Linked DNA regions of Homo sapiens: regions 1 and 3 are each linked to region 2. Evidence: fine-mapped expression QTL. A gene starts in region 2. Each other region holds a variant in brackets. All regions are shown on one strand. Distances are from middle to middle.

Evidence for each region. PIP is the estimated chance that this variant, and not a neighbour inherited with it, causes the effect.
Region 1: its variant is fine-mapped to the expression of UNKL in whole blood (TOPMed, PIP above 0.99).
Region 3: its variant is fine-mapped to the expression of UNKL in whole blood (TOPMed, PIP above 0.99).

The regions. Positions count from the first base shown.
Region 1 is chr16:1,349,032-1,351,697 of GRCh38, reverse strand. It overlaps BAIAP3 (BAI1 associated protein 3), which reads right to left. Exons shown (of 34, transcript NM_001199097.2): 34 at 2,259-2,666. TSR3 (TSR3 ribosome maturation factor) reads left to right here. Exons shown (of 6, transcript NM_001001410.3): 1 at 1-5; 2 at 100-319; 3 at 698-891; 4 at 1,464-1,640; 5 at 1,746-1,809; 6 at 2,090-2,458. The coding sequence ends at 2,261. Among named protein-coding and RNA genes, the nearest start is that of TSR3, 1.5 kb to the left of the region's middle. RefSeq lists a silencer at 1-242. The variant G/A (reference allele first, on the strand shown) is at 1,006.
Region 2 is chr16:1,413,586-1,416,251 of GRCh38, reverse strand. It overlaps UNKL (unk like zinc finger), which reads left to right and starts at 1,548. Exons shown (of 15, transcript NM_001372107.1): 1 at 1,548-1,637; 2 at 2,197-2,406. The coding sequence starts at 1,561. RefSeq lists enhancers at 349-922, 923-1,497, 1,498-2,072, 2,073-2,647 and silencers at 1,144-1,213, 1,264-1,383, 1,924-1,973, 2,404-2,553.
Region 3 is chr16:1,366,635-1,369,300 of GRCh38, reverse strand. It overlaps UNKL (unk like zinc finger), which reads left to right. Exons shown (of 15, transcript NM_001372107.1): 13 at 1,443-1,645; 14 at 1,952-2,209. Among named protein-coding and RNA genes, the nearest start is that of GNPTG, 16 kb to the right of the region's middle. The variant C/T (reference allele first, on the strand shown) is at 1,061.

The DNA.
Region 1 (2,666 bases), 65 kb after region 2:
GCAGGGTGAGCGAGGCGTGATGGGGAGAGCGGGTCAGGGTTTGAGGGCCTGCCCGGGGGTCCCACGCTGAGGCCGAGTGCCCTTCTCTCTCTCGTGCAGCTTCCGTGGAGCCAGGGGCGGCTGACGGCGAGGGCGGCCCGGGCCCGGCGGCGCTGCCCTGCACGCTGGCCATGTGGGAGTTGGGCCACTGCGACCCCCGGCGCTGCACGGGCCGCAAGCTGGCCCGCCTGGGGCTGGTGCGCTGCCTGCGCCTGGGCCACAGATTCGGCGGTCTGGTGCTGAGCCCCGTGGGCAAGCAGTACGCGTCCCCCGCAGACAGGTAGGCGCGGGAGGCCTGCCCGAGGTCGTCTTCATTTCCAGCGCGTGGTTCCCTTCAGGGATGGTTTAGTGGCACTTGTATGTCGCACCCACATCCACACCCACGTGGGCAGGGAACGTCTGTCTAGTTTGCCTCCGTTGCGTAGCGCAGAGCCTGGGATAAAGGAGGTTTTGGGGTAATAAACGTTTGTTGAGTGAATAAACACATGCTCCAGGTGCCCCAAGCAGCTGCCTCAAAAGCTTGCTCGTGAAGTCCGTTTGAGGGTGTTTGGGGATGGCGGAATGATGTCCCTGAATCCCTTAGCTAGGCCATTCTCCGGGGCATGCTCCACCTTGGGTAGTGCTGGCTCCTGAACTTATCCCATGCTGTCCCTGGCAGACAGCTGGTGGCGCAGTCTGGGGTCGCCGTCATCGACTGCTCCTGGGCCAGGCTGGACGAGACACCGTTTGGGAAGATGCGAGGGAGCCACTTGCGCCTGTTGCCCTACCTGGTGGCCGCCAACCCCGTGAACTATGGCCGGCCCTACAGACTTTCCTGCGTGGAAGCGTTTGCTGCCACCTTCTGCATCGTAGGTGAGTCCAGGGGCCCCACAGCAGTGTGACCCGGCGGCCTGCTGTTCCTGCTATGCTCCCAGCATCATGTTTCCTGCCGACAGACCCCAGGAGGAGCATAAGGGACGGACAGGG[G/A]AACAGTTCAGACAGACCACGGTTCCAGCCCCAACTGTCACTTCAGGTTTTCGGCCTGTGGAGTTGCAGTAGAGGCAGAATGGGATCGCTGTTCTATCAGGGCCGGTGTGTGGGGTGCCATTCATTATCAGGGCACCACTGCCCAGAGAATCCTCCTTATCCTCCACGTCCTCCTTACTGAATTGCTGATCTAAAGAGGCCCTGATGAGGCGTGGGGCAGTCTTGGTGGGAATGTTTGTTTCGCAGCAAAGGAGGGGGACTTGGTCGGTTGCAGAGGTGTGGACTGTAGCAAGGGAGGTGCAGGCTGGGGGCAGCACGGGTTCTCAGGACTGTGAGCTGATGTTTGCTGGGGACCCTGCGGTTACTTGGGAGAGCGCCGCCATCCGGCAGCAGGGTGATCAGGAGGCACTTGAGGGGACCGTCGACTTCTTTGGGTTTCCTGTTTCTCACACCGTCAGGCTTTCCAGACCTTGCTGTCATTTTGCTGCGGAAGTTTAAATGGGGCAAGGGCTTCTTGGACCTGAACCGCCAGCTCCTGGACAAGTACGCGGCCTGCGGCAGCCCGGAGGAGGTGCTGCAGGCGGAGCAGGAGTTCTTGGCCAATGCCAAGGAGAGCCCCCAGGAGGAGGAGATCGGTGAGCCTTGGCGGGGTGGGAACCAAGGCCCTCCAAAGCCTGGGGGGTGGGAGGCCTGGTCCTGCTCTGAGCTCACTTAGAGGCCACTTTCCTCTCTCGGCTCAGATCCCTTCGATGTGGATTCAGGGAGAGAGTTTGGAAACCCCAACAGGCCTGTGGCCAGCACCCGGTAGGTCCTTGGGCTTAATTTCATGATCACTCAGACCCAGGGCTCTCTTCTACCTCTGGCCTGAGCCCTTCCTGCTGCCTGGGGGTGGTGTTGTAAACAACACCCCGATGGTCTTCTGACTAGAAAACCTGCAGTGCATGTCCCACTGGAGAGGTTTGGGTGTGGAGAGCACAGGGAGGAAGAGGAATCTGTCCTCGGCTGGGGGCTTTTTGTGGATGACGTTGACTCCAGCTAGCCAGGGAGGACGTCATTTGGGAACGTGCTCCCCCTCCTCTCCCAGGCTGCCCTCGGACACTGATGACAGTGATGCGTCTGAGGACCCAGGGCCTGGCGCCGAGCGCGGAGGAGCCAGCAGCAGCTGCTGTGAAGAGGAGCAGACGCAGGGACGGGGGGCTGAGGCCAGGGCCCCGGCTGAGGTTTGGAAAGGAATCAAGAAACGGCAGAGAGACTGAGGGTTGCAGACACATATATTTTTGAGGCTGGGTGACGAGAAAATCTAGAGACATGAGGGACATAAATGGGCCTGGCAGCCTCGGCTCTTTGCGGCTGCTGGCAGGACTGAGCTGTCCGGGTTCTCCCCACACTTCCAGCACAGCTGTGCTCTGTGTCCTGCCTCGGCGCTCTCGCAAATGAAGCTGCAGGCCAAGAAGCCCCTTGTGAGTCTGTTTTTCACACTGGGCCTGGGGAAGGGTTGGGGCGAACTCTCGGCTCTGCCTGGAAGGGTCGTGGAGCAGGTCTCAGGTGGCCACGGATATGTGCGTGAAGGACAGCTGACCAGTTGGCACGGAGCCCTTCACACTGACCACCAGCCTTGGGTGACGTCCCTGGCCTCAGAGTGACCTCAGGGGAACCTTTCC
Region 2 (2,666 bases):
CGGAGGTTGCAACAGTGAGCCGAGATCGTGCCATTGCACTCCACTCTGGGCAACAAGAGCAAAACTCCTTCCTCCCCCCGCCCCCCGCCAAAAGAAAAAGAAAATGTGAACCTATGAAGAAATTTATCCTACCAGCAAATGATAGTTTTTGTTGTTTTACAGTATTAATATTAAAAAAAACCCTGAGATACTTGGAACAAATCTGTAGGAAGTGATTTGCTTTCAACCTAAATGGGCCCATTTTTCTTTTCGTTTTTTTTTTTTTTTTTTTTTTTTTTTTTTGAGACGGAGTCTCGCTCTGTTGCCCAGGCTGGAGTGCAGTGGCGCGATCTCGGCTCACTGCAAGCTCCGCCTCCTGGGTTCAAGTGATTCTCCTGCCTTAGCCTCCTGAGTAGCTGGGACTACAGGTGCCCACCACCACGCCCGGGTAATTTTTTTTTTTTTTTTTGTATTTTTAGTAGAGACGGGGTTTCACCGTGTTAGCCAGGATGGTCTCGATCTTCTGACCTCGTGATCCGCCCACCTCGGCCTCTCAAAGTGCAGGGATTATAGGCGTGAGCCACCGCGCCCGGCCAATGGGCACATTTTTCATATCACTAAAAATTTCTTTTTTATTTTTTGAGACAGGGTGTTACTCTGTCACCCAGGCTGGAGTGCAGTGGCGCAATCTCGGCTCACTACTAAACCTCCGCCTCCCGGGTTCACGCCATTCTCCTGCCTCAGCCTCCGGAGTAGCAGGAATTACAGGCGCAAGCCACCACACCCCACTAATATTTTTGTATGTTTAGTAGAGACGGGGTTTCACTGTTGGCCAAGCTGTTGTCAAACTCCCGAACTCAGCTGATCCGCCGGCCTCGGCCTCCCAAAGTGCTGGGATTACAGGCGTGAGACACCGCGCCCGGCCTCCTACCACTAAAAATTCTTCGGAAGCACTGTTTCAAATCACGCAGAGCACTTAGAGTTTTCCCTTTTCTCAGCTACTGCGCTGTTGGGGGAAGGGGGACCTCAAGTGTTTGCAAAATAACTGTGATAATTACCTTTGTAGATAAATCTCTGAGTATAAGTTTTTGAGGTCAAGGTTCGAAATGGAACAAATTCCTTTCTACAAAGGCCAGGACCCCTTGGCCCTTCCGCCCGGTGCCTGGCTCCCCCTGACATCAGCCTCTTGGTTCGTTTGTGGAAGAGCAGCTCTATTGAGATACAACTCTTGTGATTAATTCATGTAAAATACACGGTTATGTCGGGTCATGTCACAGCAGGGGCGACCATCGCGGGTCCCACGCGCGGCCCCGGGCAGGACCAGCGTCCCGGGCCGGGGGCTGCAGGGCAGGGCAGGGCAGGGCAGGGCAGGGCAGGGCAGGGCAGGGCAGGGCGGGGCGCGGGGCTGGGGCGGGGTCTGCGGGCCGGGGGCGGGGCTGCGGGGGGCGCGGGGCTGGGGCGGGGCCGGGGTCTGCGGGCTGGGGGCGGGGCCGCGGGGGGCGTGGCCGCGGGGGCGCGCGGGGATATCCGGGGGCGGGGGCGCCGGCGCGGCGCATGCGCGCTGCATTGTTTTGACTGAAAATGCCGTCGGTTTCGAAAGCGGCGGCAGCGGCGCTGAGCGGGTCCCCCCCGCAGACTGAGAAGCCGACCCACTACAGGTCAGCGCCCGTCCGGCCTGCGGCCCCCCGCCCGCGCCCGGTGCAGCTCGGAGCCTCCCGCCGGGGCTCGCGCCGCCTCCGCCGCCCCCGCGCCCCCCGGCCTCCGCGCAGCGCCTGGGCTGGGGGGGCCACGACCCTCTGCTCTCGGCGGCCTCCGCCTGAGGTCGGAGCGCGGCGCCCATGGTCTGGGATGGCACCTGGTTCCGGGGTCCACGCGCCTCTGGGGAGGGAGGAACGCCCCGGGGTTGGGGGTTGCGCCTGGGCTCGGGGACCGGGACCCTCTGCTCCGGCTGCCGACCGTGAGGTCACAGCGGGTCGCCCAGGGTCCGGGGTGGCGCTTGGGCTTGGGGACCAGGGTCAGCGCCTGGGCTACGAGGTCGGGTGAGGGTCGCGTCTGGAGTCGGGATGGGGGTGGGCGCAGCGCCTGGGGCCCGCCGGGAATGTGAGTACGGGTCGACCCTGGGTTGAGGCTCCTGAGGCCGGTGGGTCCCGCCGCCCACGAGTCCGAGTCCCTGGAGGTGCTGCCGGAAGCGAGCCGCGGCGCTGTCTGTGTTTGTAGGTACCTGAAGGAGTTCAGGACGGAGCAGTGCCCCCTGTTTTCACAGCACAAGTGCGCGCAGCACCGGCCGTTCACCTGCTTCCACTGGCACTTCCTCAACCAGCGGCGCCGCAGGCCCCTCCGCAGGCGCGACGGCACCTTCAACTACAGCCCCGACGTGTACTGCTCCAAGTACAACGAAGCCACCGGCGTGTGCCCCGACGGCGACGAGTAAGCGGCCGCGAGGGGGCGCCGCTGCCTGGGCGGAGGTGGGGGGCCTCCACCCGGGGATGCGGCCGGGACCCTCAGCGGACGCCTTAGTGTCCATACCTGGCCCCTGCAGAGGGAGTCGTAATTATACGCTGAAATTTTCTAGTGACCAGGGATGCTGGGGCGGCATTTCCTATTCTCAGGCCAGTTCCCGAGGGATTATGTGTGTTTTAGGGGTAACCCTTGTGTGACTCAAACCAATTTTGCTTCACCTCCCACTT
Region 3 (2,666 bases), 47 kb after region 2:
GTCAGGATATCGAGACCATCCTGGCCAACATGGTGAAACCCCGTCTCTACTAAAAATACAAAAATTAGGCGGGCGTGGTGGCACATGCCTGTAATCCCAGCTACTTGGGAGGCTAAGGCAGGAGAATCGCTTGAACCCGGGAGTCGGAGGTCGCAGTGAGCTGAGATTGTGCCACTGCACTCCAATCCAGCCTGGCGATAGAGCTAGACTCCATTTCAAAAAAAAAAAAAAAAAAAAAAAAAAAACTAATACTTTGGGCCAACATAGTGGCTCAAGCCTGTAATCCCAGCACTTTGGGAGGTCGAGGTGGGTGGTCACTTGAGGCCAGGGGTTCAAGACCAGGCTAGGCACCATAGTGAGACTCCTGAGTCTACAAAAAAATACAAAATTTTAAAAGTTTTTATTTTTTTAAAACAAAGTTTCACTCTGTCGTCCAGGCTCCAGCAATCTTGGCTCACTGCAGCCTCTGCCTTCCGGGTTAAAATGATTGTCATGTCTCAGCCTCCCGAGTAGCTGGGATCACAGGTACCTGCTACCACGCCAGGCTAATTTTTGTATTTTTAGTAGAGATGGAGTTTCACCATGTTGGCCATACTGGTCTCAAACTCCTGACCTCAAGTGATCTGCTGGCCTCGACCTCCCAAAGTGCTGGGATGACAGGCCTGTTTTTTTTTTTTTTTTTTTTTTTTTTTGAGACGGAGTCTCATTCTGTCGCCCAGGCCGGACTGCGGACTGCAGTGGCGCAATCTCGGCTCACTGCAAGCTCCGCTTCCCGGGTTCACGCCATTCTCCTGCCTCAGCCTCCCGAGTAGCTGGGACTACAGGCGCCCGCCACCACGCCTGGCTAATTTTTTGTATTTTTAGTAGAGACGGGGTTTCACCTTGTTAGCCAGGATGGTCTCGATCTCCTGACCTCATGATCCACCCGCCTCGGCCTCCCAAAGTGCTGGGATTACAGGCGTGAGCCACCGCGCCCGGCCTGTTTTTTTTAAGTAACATTTAAACTATTTCAGTCATAGTCTCTAAAGCTGCATAGACATTGGCAGTCACCACATGGACA[C/T]AGCTCTGTGGGGTCTTTGAGAGTCTCAGTGTGTGAGGGGTTCCTGGGAGTGGAGTCTGAGAACCACTGCCCCTCCCACCTCATGGTGTGGTCCCAGGAACTTGAATTTAATTCCTCTCTGTTTAGACTCCTCAGGTGGCCAGGAAGGCGTAGATCTGGTGGGGAGACCGGCCGGGGCAGGTGTCACTGTCAGCGCCTCTTCCTGAGCCTGGTGGGGTCCAGGAGTGGGGCAAGGGGCAGGCGTGGCTGCACCCCTGCTGCCAGGGCAGGTGAGCCCCAGAGGGTGCCCACGTAGCGGTGGGGCCTGGGGCATAGCACCCACCAATCCCACCAGGCCGCGAGCACAGCAGGGCTGGGCCGTCATCGACCGTTTCACACTCAGGTTTGAACGGTGTCCCCGGGAGCATCTGGGACTTTGTTTCCGGCAGCTTCTCCCCCAGCCCCTCCCCCATCCTGAGTGCCGGCCCCCCATCCTCTTCGAGTGCAAGTCCAAACGGAGCTGAGCTGGCCCGGGTCAGGCGGCAGCTGGACGAGGCCAAGAGGAAGATCCGGCAGTGGGAGGAGTCCTGGCAGCAGGTGAAGCAGGTGAGTGTGTGGGGGGGCCAGACAGGTGAGGGGGAGGGAGGGCCGCAGGGGACTCAGGTGAGCGTGTGGGGGTGAGATGGGAGGGGAGGGAGGGAGGGCCGCAGGTGACTCAGGTGAGCGTGTGGGGGGTGAGACGGGAGGGGGAGGGAGGGAGGGAGGGAGGGAGGGAGGGCCGCAGGGGTCTCAGGTGAGGGGGCCACAGCTGATGCTGGGGAGGGGAGGGGAGGATCGCTGGTGACACAGGCAAGAGGGTCTGCAGGTGGCACAGGTGAGGTGGGGGGTGCTGAGACGGGCCCTGGGTTTCAGGTCTGCGATGCCTGGCAGCGAGAGGCGCAGGAGGCCAAGGAGCGTGCCCGTGTGGCCGATAGCGACCGGCAGCTGGCGCTGCAGAAGAAGGAGGAGGTGGAGGCACAGGTGAAGCAGCTGCAGGAGGAGCTGGAGGGCCTGGGCGTAGCCTCCACACTGCCGGGGCTGCGGGGCTGTGGGGACATCGGCACCATTCCCCTGCCGAAGCTGCACTCGCTGCAGAGTCAGCTGCGCCTGGACCTGGAGGCGGTGGACGGCGTGAGTCCTGCTCTGGGCAGGGTGAGGGGCCAGCCTGCCTGCAGGGCTGCTGTCCCTGTCTGGGGAGGGCCCTGGCTGGTGCGGTGTCCCCTTCCTCCCCTGCCCCAGGGTCTGCTCCGGGCCTAGGGAGGAGGAGACGGTGCCCCACCCCAGCACAGCCCCCTGTGGCCTCCTTGCCTGTCTCCCTGGGAGCCGCCTTTCCTGTCAGGCTGGCCCTTGCCCTTTCACCCCTCCCTCTTGTCAGCGAATGCCACACTGCTCCCCGTGGCCCCATCCCTCCCTGTTCACAGCTGTGACCCTCACACATGACCCCTCCACTTCGGCGTGCCCCTCCTCACCTCGCCTGCTAAGGGTGGGCTCTTGGACTCGCTGCTATAGGACAGAGGGTCCTGCGTAGCCCACATCCTGGGCACCCAGCTGCCCTCAGGGGCCTGGCCTGTCTGGCCACTGCCGTGTC